Homo sapiens: one gene and its partner. The protein of the gene in region 1 binds, or shares a complex with, the protein of each later gene. Each region holds a gene or a part of one and is shown on either strand. Other genes may lie near its edges. A codon is read from its position in the direction of its gene.

Region 1 (7,572 bases):
CCACGGTCACCCTCCCACGTGCGAGGCGGAGTCCCGACCCACGTCCGTCTGACGGAAGGCGGAGCTTTCACGCGAGGCACGCACGGAGGCACACACAGTTACCCATCCTGCCCTGCCCTCTGGCCGCCCACTCACTGGGCAAGCAAAGGGCTCAGAGGCGACACACAGTGATCCCAGGGCTTTATTTACAAGAGGAGAAGGGTTGGCCCTGCCTGGGGCCTGGCTGGGCTATATACAGGGTCAGGGAGAGGTGGGGGGGATGCAGCCATTTAAATTACAAAAGAATGGGGCACTCCTAGGTTCAGGTTGTGAGTCTGTCCATCGCGAAATGCTTCCACAGGGTCAGGGCTGAGGCTGCCAAGAGAAGGGAGTGAGGGAGTGAGAGGGTAGCTGGAACCTGGAGGTGGAACAAGAGGGTCTGGGGCAGCTGGGAAGCACAGAATGAGGCTGCGGCCACCCCATCCACCCAGGGAAGGCAGTGGAGCCAAGGACACAGGGCAGGGCAGGGAGGACACCCAGGCAGAAGAGCTGTACCATGGCCACCTGAGGACAGCACCGCTCACTTCCTCTTGAGGGAACCCTTGCTCTTCTCCTTGTCTGCTGACCGCTGCTTCTTCACTTTCTCCTCCCTCTTGTTCTTAGTGTGCAGGTTCTCATACACATCCTCCTTGTGTCTGCAGCCGGGTGCAGGGGGGCAAGTACAGGCAGTTGGTGCAGGTCAGGAGACAGCACAGGGGGACCCGGCACTGGCAGTCCCCTCTGGCCACCCCGTCTCACAGGTGACGCAGCCACGGTCCCTGCACTAGACTCCAAGCTCCTAGAGGACAGAGGCTACATCTCATACACGAGTGCGCTGCTGGTACCTAGCAGAGGCCCACACGTGTGGGCACTCAGGAAATGCTTATGAACAGAAGGGGTGAGAACCAAGCCTGAACTTGAAGCCAGGTCCCCCCAGCTGCAACACTTGTCCTCTCCAGAAAGTGAGGATCGGGCTGGGCAGGACAAAGGGGTGGATGCCGGGCAGTGGCAGTCAGGGCCACTCACTTGGACGAGGTGCGGGAGGCCTTGGCATGGGCATTCTTCATGGCTGGGGGATAGGTGATGTTCCCGTACTCCGACTCCTGGCCCTTCTGCGACTGTGGGCAGAGGGACAGTGGGAAGGTGGTGGTCCCAGCAGGGCCAGGTGGCACCCATCCTGCACTGCAGCCCCCCCCCCCCCCAGGCCCTGCTCTGCACGCACCTGCAGGACCTCCAGCTTCTTCTTAGTGGTTTCAATGAACTGGGCGATGGCCACGTAGATGAACTTGTACTGCGCCTCCGTCTGCACCATGCCCGAGCGCTGCGCCCGCACCATCTGGATGGTCTTCTGGATGTCAATGTCACAGTCCAGGCCTGGGTGGGGGGCAGTCAAACCTCAGGTCCAGGCATAGGCGGACACCGAGGGGCTGCTCACCCCCCACCCCCAAACCCCCAGGTGCCCCTCACCCTTGGTGGAGATGTTCTCCATGAGCATGTCGATGACAATGATGGTGCCTGTGCGGCCGATGCCGGCGCTGGGGAAAGACGGGGGTGCCATCAGAGGCCAGTCAAGCCCTCCCCGGGAAGGGGGGTACCCAGCGCTCAGCTCCAGCCCCAGGCACCACAGGAGCAGCCTGAGCCTCCAGTGATGGGAGGGAATGTGCCCAGGGTCACCGGGCAAGTGATGATGGAGGTTTGCCCAGCTCTGCATGGACACGCTCCACCTCGGGCTCTGCGGTGCTGACGCTGGCTCCCCAGCTGCCACCATCCTTCCCTCCTCCACTCCTCGCGCCGACTCCTCACTCCTAGTGAGTGGCTGCCCCCACCCCGGAAGACCTGGGACCCCCAAATCCCACCACTGTCCTGCCGGCTCCCAGGTACCCTGAGCCCTCCCCGCCTCTCCCTGAAGGAGTTATGGAGCGTCTCTCAGCATGGCTTCACTTCCCTTTTCCTTCAAACCCTGACGTCAGGGAAAGGATAGCCCTGAGACAGCAGGGTGCGGGGGCACAGGGTCAGGGGACTCAGGGGAGCAGTGCAGTAGGAAGTTTCTCTCCTTTCCCAGCCCTGGGCAAACAGACCTCAGGGAGACCCCAGGCCCACCCTCAGCTGAGCCCAGCAAGCTGATGCCCTGAGTCGCGCTGTCTAATTTCAAACCCAGATTGTCAAAAATAACCCCCCACACCCACTTCCTTCCTGTAACGTCTAAATAAAGGCCATGGGGCTTTCAAGAAGTGTGTGAATGTGTGTGTGGCGGGTGAGCAGGAGGGTAGCTCTCGGGGATGGGCCTGTCCCTGAGAGAGCACAGGACAGAGCCGCGTCCCCGGACAGCCCATCGGGGGCACCTCTAGATTCAGCCGACTTGCCCTGTCCCAGGACAAACAGCTGCTGGGGGAAGAGGAGGAAGCCAGAGGCCGTCGCAGGCCTGGGGTCCACGGAGGGAGTGGGAAGGGACCGGGGCAAGGCAGGTTCCCATTCCCCTATTCTCTGCCTGATGTGAGTTACTAAACTAGTAACAGCGCCCAGTTTTTGAGGGCTGACGGAATTCCAGCCACAACGATAGGGTCTCATTGAGTTCTCACGACAACCCTGAGATCCTGATTTTACAGATGAGGAAGCTGAGGGTTAGAAAAGTTAAGTAATTTGTCCAAGACCACACAGCTGGTAAGCGGAGGGGCCCTGCACCCACTGCCTCTCATCCACCCAGGCCAGGCCAGCTCAGTGGGCTCACCTGTGGAACCCCTGCTCCTCCTTGCAGCCCCCACCTCTGCACCTTACCAGAGGTCTCCTGATCACAAACATGCGGGTAGATAGACAGAGGAGTTATGTGCAGCCCCAAAGAAGCATCACCCATCCCCACACAGCCCTGGGGGCCAGGATGGGGCACTGCCTGGGGAAGCTGGGAGAGAGGGCAGAGTCAGGAAGAAGCCGAAGCCCTGCGGCTACCGATGGAAAAAGAGGAGGAATGGGGAGCACATGCCTCATAGATGTTCCTGGGAGAAGAAACCAACAGAATGGGACCTCGAGAGAAAGCGGAGCAGCCGGGACACAGGCCTACTGTGGGTGCCTGCCCGGCCTTGCCCTGACTAGCTTGGGCCTGGCCAGCAACTGGGTCCCGGGCTCCTCCTCTGTATTTGGCAGGGTTGGGCGAGATGGTACATCCGGAGAGGGCTCTGAGGAAGATACCCACAGGCAGAGGGCCAAAGTGGGGCTGGTTCCAGCCACGATCCACCCAGGGTTCTGGAGCCATGAGGGGACCCAGGAGAAGCCGGGGGTGAGCGGAGGGCACTCAATGTGCGAGCTAACGTTTATATTGCTTATAACAGCTCATGGCACTTAGCAGTATTTACTTCTCAGCTGTCACTACTACCATCAGGATTATCATCCTCACCTGCAGTGCACGATGATGGGCCCTGCGTGAGGCAGACTTTCCTGCCGCTGGTTGATCTGGTCCAGGAAGCTGAGGACACCCCCAGGCTCACTGGGGACCCCATGGTCGGGCCAGCTCAGGTACTGGTAATGCCAGATCTCCCGAATCAGGTCTCCCTAAGCCGAGGACATAGGGTCAGTGCCCCCTCCTCTCTCGGAACACCTCATCCATCTCACCCTACCCGACCAGAGAGGAGAACAAGTCCAGGGAGGGACTCCCGGAATGGGGCAGGGCGTGGGGGCCACTCACATTGTCCAGCGGGGAGACCTGTAAGGTACGGAGTTTGTATTCGGTTGTGTCATGCTCCCCGCAGTTGGTCACAGAGTAGGGCCCATAAGCACGCTGCATGCCCACCTCGGGCCAGTATGGGACGCATTTGTTCTGGAAAGGGAGGGTCGGGTGGGGATGAGGCACAGAGCAGGGCACTGTGGCCCATCCCAGGTCCTGCTCTATGTTCTGAGTGCCTGGCACCGGCCCAAACATTTGTTGGATGGACGGATGGGCTGGCAGAGAGGCAGGAGACCTGGGCTCTCGTCTCAGATCAACCACCAACAGGTGGTGAGGCCTGGCCAGCCACTTCACCGGTACATCCGTTTGTCATTCAACAAACGTTGCCAGGGCAGGCATTGTCCCCGAAGCTGTGCAAACCACACAGCTTCACAGACACAAATAACACCCAGTCTGTGCCCCTGTGCCTCGAGGAGCTCACAGAGACAGGTGACCGGGGGAGACACCGCGCTGAGGAGCGTGGCTGGGAAAGACGTAATTCTCCCTCTAGGTCCTGGAGGAAACAAGACCTGGATTCACAGAGGAGGCAGCGCTCCGGCTGTGTCTTCAAAAACGAGGCATCTGCCAGGCAGAGATAGTGTGGAGAGAGTCATTTCCTAGCAGAAAATGAGCTTGTGCAAAGAAAGGCTGGGAACCTGAAAGAGCTGGGGCTGCTGGGGGCGGTGAGCCTTCAAGAGAAGCGTGCGGGTCAGAGGGAAGCCACCAGACCTTGAATGCCAGGCCTTAGAGTGCGACTTTATCCCAAAGGTGACCAGGAGCCATGGAAGAGATTTCAGAAAGGAAGGAACTTGACCCAGTTTGTGTCACGGATGGGATCACTTCAATGGCAGCACAGAGGGTGCTGTGTAGGGGGAGCCTGCAGGGTAAGGGGCAGACTCCAGAGAGATCTATGGGGCAGGGAGGACAGGAGGGGCCTGGATGCAGACAGGTGGGGCAGGGGTAGGAGGAAGGAGGACAGCCTGGAACCTGGGTCTGGAGCTCAGAAGAGCCCAGGGATGCATGCAGGGATCTGGGGGTCACGTTGTGTAGTCGAGACTTTGTCACTAGCCCTCAGTTTCCCAACAAGGGCCGGACCCTCACCCCTGAGATCCCTTTCTGCCCTGGCATCTGACTGCTCTTCGACTTAATGGCATGACCACAAGCACGGGGGCGGATGCGGGGAAGGGGGGGCGCCCTACCCGGCCTTTCTCCACCTCTCGGGTGGTCATGACGATGACACGGCTGTTCTCCTGCCACGCCATCTGCCAGAAGTCATTGACCGTGGCCTCCAGACAACCCTGGCTGGCGATGTAGGTCTTAGCGTTCTCATCAGGGCCTAGCAGCTGGTTCTGGACGCAAGCGTGGAGAGACGCACCCCAAGACAGTGAGCCCCTTGGCCCAGCACAGGCCCTGAACCACTGCCACCCTCACCCATGCAAGAAGCCAGCTTCGGCTTTGCCCAGCTGTCTCTGGATCTAGGGTCCCCCCACCAGACAGGGAATTCCCAGGGCCCAGCCTCTCCTCCCACGTGGCCCACACTGCTGACCTTGATGTAGTTGGCATTGATGTAGTCGGACCCGGGGATGTTACTGTCCCGTCCCTGCAGGATCACTCGGCTGTGGTCAACTGGGAGTGGGCGGAGAGGAGGCGAGATGGTCTGGGTTAGCCAGGGACTCACCACACCTGGGTCAGACCCTCCTGAGCTAACAGGCCATTCTGGTCTCAGAAGCCATGAGGCTTGCGGGGGACTGTGGGCAGCAGGGGTGGGGGATCATCTGTATGGAGGGAGTGAGGGAGTTCACAAGGAGGTTGGGAGCAGGGGGCAACCTGCCTGCTGGTGGTGGGGAGGCACTTCTGGGAGGAGTAGAGGCCTTTTGGAGAAGGGGGAGGCTCTGTGGGGGGTGTGGGGAGATGGCCCCTCCTGGCGTGGAGGGTGGAGACCTGTGAGATGAGGGGAGGCAGCTGGGGCAGGGGCGGTATCCTGGGTGAATGGGGCAGCCTGGGTGCTCACAGGGGAGAATGTTCTTGTAGCGGTTCTTGCCCTTGTTCTCTGGCCGCTGCCCTTCCAGACGCTGGTGCAAGTTCTTCACCTCCTGCTTCTGCAAACTCTGAGATGTGGGTGGGGAAATGAGCATCAGCTCCCAAAGAGGGCATCCATCGGGGGAGCTCACGTGGGGTGGGTCAGGAGCAGAGGTGGGCAAGGAGGGGAAGGTGTCCGCCTGGGGCCCCAGGCCGCTGCCACCACCTCAGCTGCCCCAGCCCTGCCGGTCCCCACCATGCACCTCAAACTCCTCCCAGAAGCCAGCCTTGGCTGTATCCTCGGACTCCTGCTTCTTGTTCAGTTCCAACACTCGGTTCTCAATGTCAGCCGCATTCACCCTCGTGGCATAGTACGGCTGGGGTGGGGAAGAGCGAGAAGTCAGCAACTCAGAGATCCCAGAAGCTCACATCTGGGGGACAGCTCAGGGGAAGTGGGGAGGCAGCTGGGCCCACCCCTGACCTGCCGCAGGTAGACAAAGGCGCCTGAGGCCTCCTCAATCCCCGTCTTCTTGAAATGCTCCACCAGGTCCGTGAGGCTGTCGAAGGTCTCCAAACCACCCACTGTGTAGCGTCCACCCTGGGGGGAGCCAAATTAGGCCATTCACAGGACTTGAGTCTCCCTCCCTGGGTCCCCAGCCTTGAATTCAAGCCCAGGCAGACCCTCCCTGCCACCCACACTGTGGTCACAGACAGGAGCCTCAGCAGAGGCTCCCCCGCCGCCTGGCTGCCTTACCTCGCACATGACCTTGATGTGGGTGACCCTGAGCGGGGAGCCTGGGCCAGCCTTGGGCTGGTCACTGAGCACAGAAAGCACGAAGTCTCCAGGCTGGCTGAGGCTCTCACGCACAAGAAACGTCCAGGGCTCGCCCTTGGCCTGCAGCAGCGTCTCTGCCTGCCCGCCAGACATGTGGCCATGGTACCACCTAGAGAAGGCAGCGTCAGGGAAGGTAAGACCCAGGCCACAGGGGAAGGCGCTGAGCAGAGACATTCACAGAGAGGGGCCGGAAATCAAGCACCTACTGTGTGCCAGGCACTGCGCTACATGCTTCCAAATCCACCACCTCATTTAGGTCTCTCACAAACATGCTGAGAGCTAGGTATGATATTACCCCCATTTTATAGATGAGGAAACTGACGCTGAGCTGTTACTCACTGGCCTAGGGCCCTTGACTGACTCTAGGGCAAGCTTCCAGAGCTCTGTTGCCCAGGCTGGAGTGCAGTGGCGCGGTTACAGCTCTCTGCAGCCTCGACCTCCCAGGTTCAAGCCATCCTAGCCTCCAGAGTTCTAACCGGGCTTCGAACCCAGAGCCCACCTCTGAAAGGCAGAAAGGCTGGCAATATTCAAAATATTTGGAGGAGAGAAGCTAAGGATGAATCTCCGTGAAGGATGGGACTGTGCCCCAGCAGAGACCAGAGGCAAAGAGAAACGCAGACCGAGGCCACACCACAGGGAGTGGTGGGAGATGGACACACAGACTCAAGTCACAAGGAAGGCGGATGGGGTGCGCTCCGCCAGGGAGGCGGGGAAGACAACCCCACTGGGGAAAGAGTGGTGTAGGGGGTTCTGGGGTGCCCTGGATGATGTCACTGAAGGGGAGCCCAGGGTTCAAACGGATTTGAAGGGGCTGTCAGGGCAGAAAGCAGAACTAAGCCCTTTCCCCGAAGCACACCCCTTTCCCAGGAGGAAACTGTAGCCCCACAAAGCCCAGCCCCACAGGAAACCACGTGATGGAAAAAACACAAAACTCCTTCTGGGGAGAGAGTGAGAAGTGAGGTTGTGAGGTTTCCTCAGCCCAGGGACGAGGGGAGGGCGGGCAAAT
Region 2 (8,041 bases), 3.5 Mb from region 1:
TGGAACAGAATAGAAAACTCAGAAATAAAGCTGCACACTTACAGCCATCTGATTTTCAAAAAGACAGACAAGAAAAAAAGGAATATAAATGGACTGCTTATACAATAAATGATGCTATGAAATCGCCTTGTTGTCTAGGGTAATATCTGAGGTTTGTTGTCCCATGACCACAGAAAACTAGGACGTGAACACACCAGAGTGAGGTTAAGACAGGAAGTTTAATGGGCAAAAGAAAGAGAAGAGATCTCTGCCCAGGGATGGGTACTGGAGAAATGGGTTGCTGCTTCTGCAGTGAAATGTAGAAGGTTTTATAGATGAGCTTGAGGGGGCAGTGTCTGATTTACATAGGGCACGAAAGATTGGTCGGACTAGGCATGCCATTTGCATAGCGCTTAAAGAAGCTGGCCACTCAACCCTAGTCTTTTATTATGCAGATGGTTGTCTACCTGGCCTGTGCCATGTTGCCTGGTTCTTTATTAGTGACAAAGAAAAGGGAAGATGGAGCCTCCAGGTTGAAAATGCCTGGCTTCCAGTCAGCCCCTTTTCTATTGGCACAGCTGCCAGCATGCACACATGCAAGTCTCCAGCCTGCTTATCTATGTCTGCTGCTTCATTTTTCAGGCTGCTCTTTGTTAGAAAAGAAGTTATTTGGGGCTGCTTTTTGTTAAAAGGGAAGCCTTGCTGAGAATTCCTTTACCCTCACTATCTGCCTAAATAATTTCTTTCTCGTTCCTGTATCACTAGTGTAACTGTCTAGCCATGTGCAGAAGAGTTAAAATGGACCCTTACCTTTCACCATATAGAAGAATTAACTCAAGATAATTAAAATTTTAAATGTGATACCTCAATCTGTAAAAATTTTAGAAGAACACCTAGGAAATACCTTTCTCAACATCAGCCTTGGCAAACAATTTTTTGGCTATGTCCTTAAAAGCAAGGGCAATAAAAACAAAAATTGACAAATGAGACCTAAACTAAAAAGCTTCTGCACAGCAAAATAAACTATTAATGAAATATACAGACAACCTACAGAGTGGGAAAAATTATTTGCAAACTATGCATCTGACAAAGGTCTAATATCCAGAATCTATAAGGAATTTAAACAGAACAACAAGGAAAAACAATAACCTCATTTAAAAATGGGCACAGGACATAAACAGACACTCCTTAAAAGAAGACATACAAGTATCCAGCAAGCATATTAAAAAACACTTATCATCACTAATCAACAGAGAAATGCAAATCAAAACCACAGTAAGATACCATCTTACACTAGTCAGAATGACCACTATTTAAAAGTCCAAAAACAACAGATGCTGATGAGGCTGCAGAAAAAAGAAAATGCTAATACACTATTGGTGGGAATGTAAACTAGCCTAACCGCTGTGGAAAGTAGTTTGGAGATTTCTCATAATACTTCAAACAGAGCTACCATTTGACCCTCAATTGCACTACTGGGAATATAACCAAATGAAAATAGATCATTATATCAAAAAGACGCATGCACTCACATTTTTATCACAGCACTATTCACAACAGCAAAGATATGGAATCAACTTATGTGCTCATCAGTGGTGGACTGGATAAAGAAAATGTGGCATATATACACCATGGACTAGTACTCAGCCATAAAAAAGATAAAACCATGTCCTCTACAGCAACATGGACAGAGCTGGAGGCCATAATCCTAAGCAAATTAATGCAGGAACAGAAAACCAACTACTGAAGGTTCTCACTTATAAGTGGGAGCTAAACACTGAGCACCCTTAGACGTAAATATGGGAACAAAAGACACTGCAGACTACTAGAGGGGAGAGGAGAGCAGGGAAGAATGGTTCAGAAAACTACCTACTTTGGATTATACTCACTATTCTGGTATAATATACCCATGTAACAAACCAGCACATGTACTCCCTGTATCTAAAAATAAAAGTTGAAAGAAAAAAAATTGGAAAAATTCTCAAGGACAGTTGACTGGCCAAAGATTTTTTGAGTAATACCCCACAATCACAGGAAACCAAAGCAAAAATGGACAAACGAGATCACATTAAGCTAAAAAATAAACAAAACCCCCCCACGAGATTCTCTTATCTTAGACTTTTGACAATTTGATTATATTATGCCTCATAATAGTCTTTTCTGGGCTGATCTTGCTCATGATTCATTGAGCTTCATGAATCTGGATTTCCATATCCTTCCCAAGTGAGGAAGGTTTTCAGACAGTATGTCTTTAAAGAAAAAATATTTTTGACTTTTTATGTCTCTCTTCTCCTTCTGAAGTTTCTATACTTTCTATACCATATTCTTGGTGGTGTCTCAAAGGTCTCATGCTTTCTTTGCCACTTTTTATTCTTTTTTTACTCTAATTTGTTAATTTTAAAAGACTCTTTTTTTGAGTTCACTAATTCCTCTGCATGATTGAGTCGGGCATTAAAACTCTCTATTGACTTATTTATTTCTTTCATTGTGTTCTTCAGCTCCAGAATTTTTGTTTGGTTCTTTTTAATAGTTTATATTTCTTTATTAAATTTTTATTTTGTTCATGTATTTTTTGTTTTAGTTGTATTTTTTGTTTACTCTTTTCTTTTGCATCTCACTGAGATTTTTTAAGATGATTGTTTTGAATTACTTTAAAGGAAACTTATAGATCTCCATTTATTTGGATCAGTTGCTAAAGCTTTATTAGTTTCCTTTGGTGGTGTCATATTTGTCTGATGCTTTGTTATTTGTTTATCCTTGTACTGATGTCTGTGCATTTGAAAGAGCAGACTCTCTTTCAGTCTTTACAGACTGGTTTCGGTAGGTTAAAAGCTTCTCCTGTTAGTGTCCTGGGCTGATGAGATTGCCTTCAGTATCATGGTTGAATGGGGTTACAGCCAGATCACATGGTTGCTTACGGGTCCAGAGTGGGATCTTTGGTTCATGATCCTTTTACTAGGGCTTCTAGCAGGCTTGTATCCTATTTAGTGCCTCAGAGGGCCAAACTGGCTCTAGAATCATACTGTATAGGGCTGGGGAGGGGATGAGGGTCCACTTCAAGGTCTGTAAATGGTGGGTCTATTATTAGGTGTGTAGTTGGGGAAGAGTTTATCTAGTTTGCTGGGAAGGCTGCTCATGGGTCTCTGAGTGGGTTCCTCAACCTGTGGCACAGAGGAGTTAGTGCTAAGTCACAAGGTTTCCTCGGGGTCTATAGCTGAAACCAGTGTCTTCATGTCTGTCTCTGGGGTCATGGTTGAGTGTGTTTTCTGGCAGGTCTGTGGGCAGGCAGATTTGCCTCAGACTGTAGTTGAGTTGGGCTGGAGCTGGATCCAGAATTGTTTCAAGATCTGAAATAAAACTAAGGTCTGTGCCTGCAGGGGCACTAATGATGTCTCTCTCCAGGTCCCTGTATGGGCAAACTGCTCTCTAGCATAGCTGAGAAGTGTCGAAGCCCCTTTTCTGTCCAATTAAAGGATCTGCTGTGAAACCTAGGTCAATGGTCTCCTAGTTGGGACATGGATGCACATGTCCTCCCTCTGTATCCCTGAGCTGGCAAGACTGCTCACAGTCCACAGCTGAGAAGGGTGAAGGTCAAGATTCAAGGCTGTTTCAGAAACTACCGTGGAACTGAAGTCAGCAAGCCTGTACTGCTGACAAAGATGATTGAGTCTCACAGCAATTTCCTGTGATTAACTCAGGTCACAGTTGAGAGGAGTTTGAGTGGAGATTCAGGGCCATTTTAGTATCTTCTGTAGGACAGAGGTCAGCAAGCATGCCCCAGAGGTACAGATGTATATGTCTCCCAGGAAGTCTCTGTGGGTGAAGGACTGATCTCAAGTTGTGGCTGACACTAGTTAAAGCCAAGTTAGAGGGCTGTTTCAGGGTCTACATTGAGACTACAGTTGATATGCCTACCTCCTGAGACACTAGTGTGTGAGTCTCCTCCTGGGCCCCTGGGCAAATGGTTTTGGCAGCATGACCAAGGCCTAAATGGGGCTGAAGGCAAGCACAGGAGGATGGGTCCCTTTTCAGGTCTGGAGATGGAATCACTGTTGGTAAGTCTGCCACTTGGATGCAAATCTATTCCCTAAAACAACCTTCCTAGGTCTTGGGTTCCACTGGCATTTTACAAACTCCTACTTGAATTCCAAACTCCCTCAAAGGAACTTTTGTCTGTGGATGGCTGAAAAATTATTGTTGCTGTGGGGGCATATGTGTGGGGGACCACCTATTCTGCCAATTTACTGACTTTCCTCCTAGTAAGATTTTAAAATTACTTTTTCCCCATACATAGTTTGACTTCAGTTTTTGTCATTTACAACTAAATATTTCTATGAAAGTCGACATAATTTGTTATGGCGGAGGATGAATAAATGAAGAATGTAATGAATAGCTATTTAATATTTCAATTTCTGGTATGCTAATATATTTCAAAATTGATTAATATTTTACCTATCCAAGATATTTTTATCAAGGGTAATCTGAAGATTAAATAATCTATTTTTAAAAATTAAGTGCAAAAATTTAAGAACTAAGAGAAGTTAATAATATAACTTTGGCAATGATGCTTTTTGTGCCAGCTACAATCAATTGAGTAATTACTGCAGTAATTTTTCAGAATAATTAAGGAAAAAATCAGTAGATATCAGTTGATAATATTACTATGAGTTTTAGAATGTTTTCTATTATAATGGAAGTGACATAATAAAATAATATAAAGAAAAGAAGTATGCAATGTTAAGATTTAGCAACCTAGTCTAAAAGGCACTCTTAACAAGGTGAGGGTTGACAATGTTCGTGATCAAGACAGAAAAAAAAAAAATTCTCATAGGCACTTGAAAAATGAACCAACTAAATGACACACTTTCAAAGTCAACCTTGTACTTTTAATAGACCAAGTATCCTATATTTTGGAGGTGTGTGATGAGATAAAACTGATTTCACAATAGCCCATGTGTAGAATTTCCTGTTCAAACCTTAGTAACACGTTGATGAGAAATCTACTTTTTCCACTCTTGACTCACTCTGAGCCTTCACAGGGCAGTCTGCGAAGATTGCAGGCATTGTTTGTTCTTGTCTTGGATTTATGCCTTTAAATTTCACCTTTTATTACACAGCTATAGCAGGCCTTTTTATGAGACTAACCTGGCCTCTCCACTAAAGGATGTGTGACTTTCTGGGGACAGAAGGTATGTATTGCTACTCTCCAACTCTCTACTAGCCTACCTCATTTAGTGGGTGATTTCAAGTGCTCAATATGATACAAAGGAGGTATAATTAATATACAATAAAATCAAAGTAGAATATTGCTGTCTTCATTTGAATAACTCAGGGTAAAAACCTAAAATATGAAATATGTTGAAGGATTTCTTAAAGTTTTCAAATTATTGTTTGTGGAAATCTAGTGGGTTTGTTGATCAATATCGTTTAAGGGAAAGCTATTAACATCACAATAATGAACAATTAATTTTGTATTTTGTAATCAGTACATCATGTATCTTTGAATAATAATTTATATTTAGCTTAGCCATTAAAGATTATTAAAATAAATCAATCAATTGATGAAAGCCAAATACAATTCCTCAGACACGTAGATTAGAGAAAAGCAGTTTTTATTTTTAATAAAAATCAGAATGAGGTAGATTACATAAAATGCTAAAGGTATTACAAAGCAATAAAAATACTTTTTAAAAATTGATCAAAATATTGCAAAAAAAGATGTAGCGCATGGACATAGGAGACTTATCTGAAGATTTATTTTCCATGCTTTAACTGACATGAATCAGAAACAGTAACATAACAATTGTGACTAAAATAATAATTAAAGTAGCTAATGCTTATTGAGAACTTTAAGTGCCAGGTTGAGTGGTAAATGTTTTACATGCAACGTTTTATATGTTCTTATGCCCATTTTAGATTAACAAACTGGGTTATTAAAAATAGAATAACTTTTTAAAGGTCGCACATTATAAGTGTCAAAGCTAGAATTAATTCTAGATCTCACTGACTCCAGAGCCCATTGACTAAATGATTTAATTACATTATCTGAAATTTTACAAGTACTTATACAACTAAAGTGGCCTTTACTCACTTTGACAACCATAAAATCATTCTATAAGTTTAAATGAAATGTGCTTTAACATGAATTACCTATACTTTTATTTATCATTTTTTGGTTCATAATTTAGCCAGGAAATAAATTACCAATTACTAATTAAATTACCAATACTTCTGTAAGTATTAACAATTTATGTAGTGTTCCTAATACTATTTAGGTTATGCATAAGTTAACTGTGTCACATAGCATTTTCTGTCATATACAAATATTTAATTTTTTATAATTTTTAATAAATAATTTTTAATAATTTCTTAGAACATTTCAGCCATTAAGAAAAGACCATTTAATTACCTCTATTGATTTTCATTAATGTGTATAAATTACTAATTAAAAGTAATGTAGTGCAAGAAATTTTTATATATATATATGTCAACTTTACTATTACTCATGTGCAGACCACATAGTCTTAACCATTACTGGATTTCAAAATTAACATAAAAATGAGTGCAGAAGTTTTTCTAATACAACATTTTAATTTTTAACACAGGTAAAACATCAGACTTTAAGAAATATATTTTTATTCCTGAACTTCTTTATTCCTTAGTAATTTATTGCTTCTCATTGCCCCAGCAATAATATTTTGTCAAATGCAGAAAATTTATCTTTTTTTTTTGAGTCGGAGTCTCACTCTGTCGCCCAGGCTGGAGTGCAGTGGCACAATCTCCGCTCACTGCAACCTCTGCCGCCCATGTTCAAGAGATTCTCCTGCCTCAGCCTCCCGAGTAGCTAGGACTACAGGCGCCTGACATCATGCCCGACTACTTTTTGTATTTTTAGTAGAGACGGAGTTTCACCGTGTTAGCCAGGATGGTCTCGATCTCCTGACCTCGTGATCGGCATGCCTCGGCCTCCCAAAGTGCTGGGATTACAGGCGTGAGCCACCGCGCCCGGCCTAAAAATCTTTTTTTAAAACAAATATTCATAAGAAACGTGTTTAGGCTTGAAGAAAATCAGAGAAAGAACTTTAGATTATTTAATGCAAAATGAGCTCCAATACTCGTTCTCCACCTCACCCTTTTAATTGCACTAGGGAATCCTGTATATAAACCATTTATTAACTTCTTAACTACTGTTATTATAGAGTACAGTCCCTGACATCACACACTGCAGAGATGGATAACCAAGGAGTAATCTACTCAGACCTGAATCTGCCCCCAAACCCAAAGAGGCAGCAACGAAAACCTAAAGGCAATAAAAACTCCATTTTAGCAACTGAACAGGAAATAACCTATGCGGAATTAAACCTTCAAAAAGCTTCTCAGGATTTTCAAGGGAATGACAAAACCTATCACTGCAAAGGTAAAGCATTTAAAAGATCCTCAATATAACAGTCTAGGATGTGCAGCTTGGGGTACAGGAATGTGGGGAAAGAGAAGGGAGTGCTCATATATCTTCTATTTGCAAAGATCAGAATTCCAAGTTGAGATATGCTATTTCAATGTAAAGTATGAAGACTGATTGAACTCATTGTTGAAGTTTGTAGTCTTTGTCAAATAATTCATGGAGCATTATTTTTCCTGAAAATTCAATGGTATATTATTCTGAGAAAAAGATTACAATGGGAGATGAGGGTTTGGGGTCCAAGTTTCTCTGTATGATTCCTGTGCATTCAGGTTCTCTTGTCTGTGAATCTTCTAAACGACTGTATCCACCTCTCCTTTCGCACTGTTCCCATTTCTCTCCCTGCAGATTTACCATCAGCTCCAGAGAAGCTCATTGTTGGGATCCTGGGAATTATCTGTCTTATCTTAATGGCCTCTGTGGTAACGATAGTTGTTATTCCCTGTAAGTCTATTTTCGAAGATTACAAGGGGAATTTTCACGTTAATGATTGAATGTGCCTCTAAACATTTCATATTTTCAGGGAATAGAGTTCTCATTGTAATGTATATATTTGGACTAAATGTGGAATGATTATTCTGAATTTGTCAAAGAATAAATGAA

Evidence for each region. Proteins that work in one complex are often made in the same cells at the same time.
Region 2: the proteins of PTPN6 (region 1) and KLRC1 are in contact, whole or in part, in an NMR structure (PDB 2YU7), measured with the Homo sapiens proteins. Residues at the interface, in NP_002822.2 of Homo sapiens: Gly117 (codon at 6,653), Gly118 (codon at 6,650), Glu121 (codon at 6,641), Arg136 (codon at 6,596), Ser138 (codon at 6,590), Leu139 (codon at 6,587), Ser140 (codon at 6,584), Val146 (codon at 6,566), Thr165 (codon at 6,509), His166 (codon at 6,506), Ile167 (codon at 6,503), Lys168 (codon at 6,500), Val178 (codon at 6,314), Gly179 (codon at 6,311), Gly180 (codon at 6,308), Leu181 (codon at 6,305), Glu182 (codon at 6,302), Ile199 (codon at 6,251), Glu200 (codon at 6,248), Glu201 (codon at 6,245), Ala202 (codon at 6,242); in NP_002250.2 of Homo sapiens: Ile38 (codon at 7,321), Thr39 (codon at 7,324), Tyr40 (codon at 7,327), Ala41 (codon at 7,330), Glu42 (codon at 7,333), Leu43 (codon at 7,336), Asn44 (codon at 7,339), Leu45 (codon at 7,342), Gln46 (codon at 7,345), Lys47 (codon at 7,348).

The regions. Positions count from the first base shown.
Region 1 is NC_000012.12:6,953,908-6,961,479, reverse strand, and holds the end of PTPN6 (tyrosine-protein phosphatase non-receptor type 6), read right to left. Parts: intron 6,676-7,572; coding exon 6,486-6,675; intron 6,330-6,485; coding exon 6,213-6,329; intron 6,109-6,212; coding exon 5,995-6,108; intron 5,821-5,994; coding exon 5,724-5,820; intron 5,339-5,723; coding exon 5,259-5,338; intron 5,062-5,258; coding exon 4,912-5,061; intron 3,827-4,911; coding exon 3,695-3,826; intron 3,562-3,694; coding exon 3,407-3,561; intron 1,554-3,406; coding exon 1,486-1,553; intron 1,393-1,485; coding exon 1,241-1,392; intron 1,137-1,240; coding exon 1,045-1,136; intron 818-1,044; coding exon of another isoform or gene 675-817; coding exon 560-674; 3' UTR 535-559; intron 355-534; 3' UTR 164-354; downstream 1-163. UniProt on the Homo sapiens protein: Tyrosine phosphatase enzyme that plays important roles in controlling immune signaling pathways and fundamental physiological processes such as hematopoiesis.
Region 2 is NC_000012.12:10,450,325-10,458,365, reverse strand, and holds the start of KLRC1 (NKG2-A/NKG2-B type II integral membrane protein), read left to right. Parts: upstream 1-4,988; 5' UTR 4,989-5,168; intron 5,169-7,178; 5' UTR 7,179-7,209; coding exon 7,210-7,396; intron 7,397-7,786; coding exon 7,787-7,882; intron 7,883-8,041. UniProt on the Homo sapiens protein: Immune inhibitory receptor involved in self-nonself discrimination.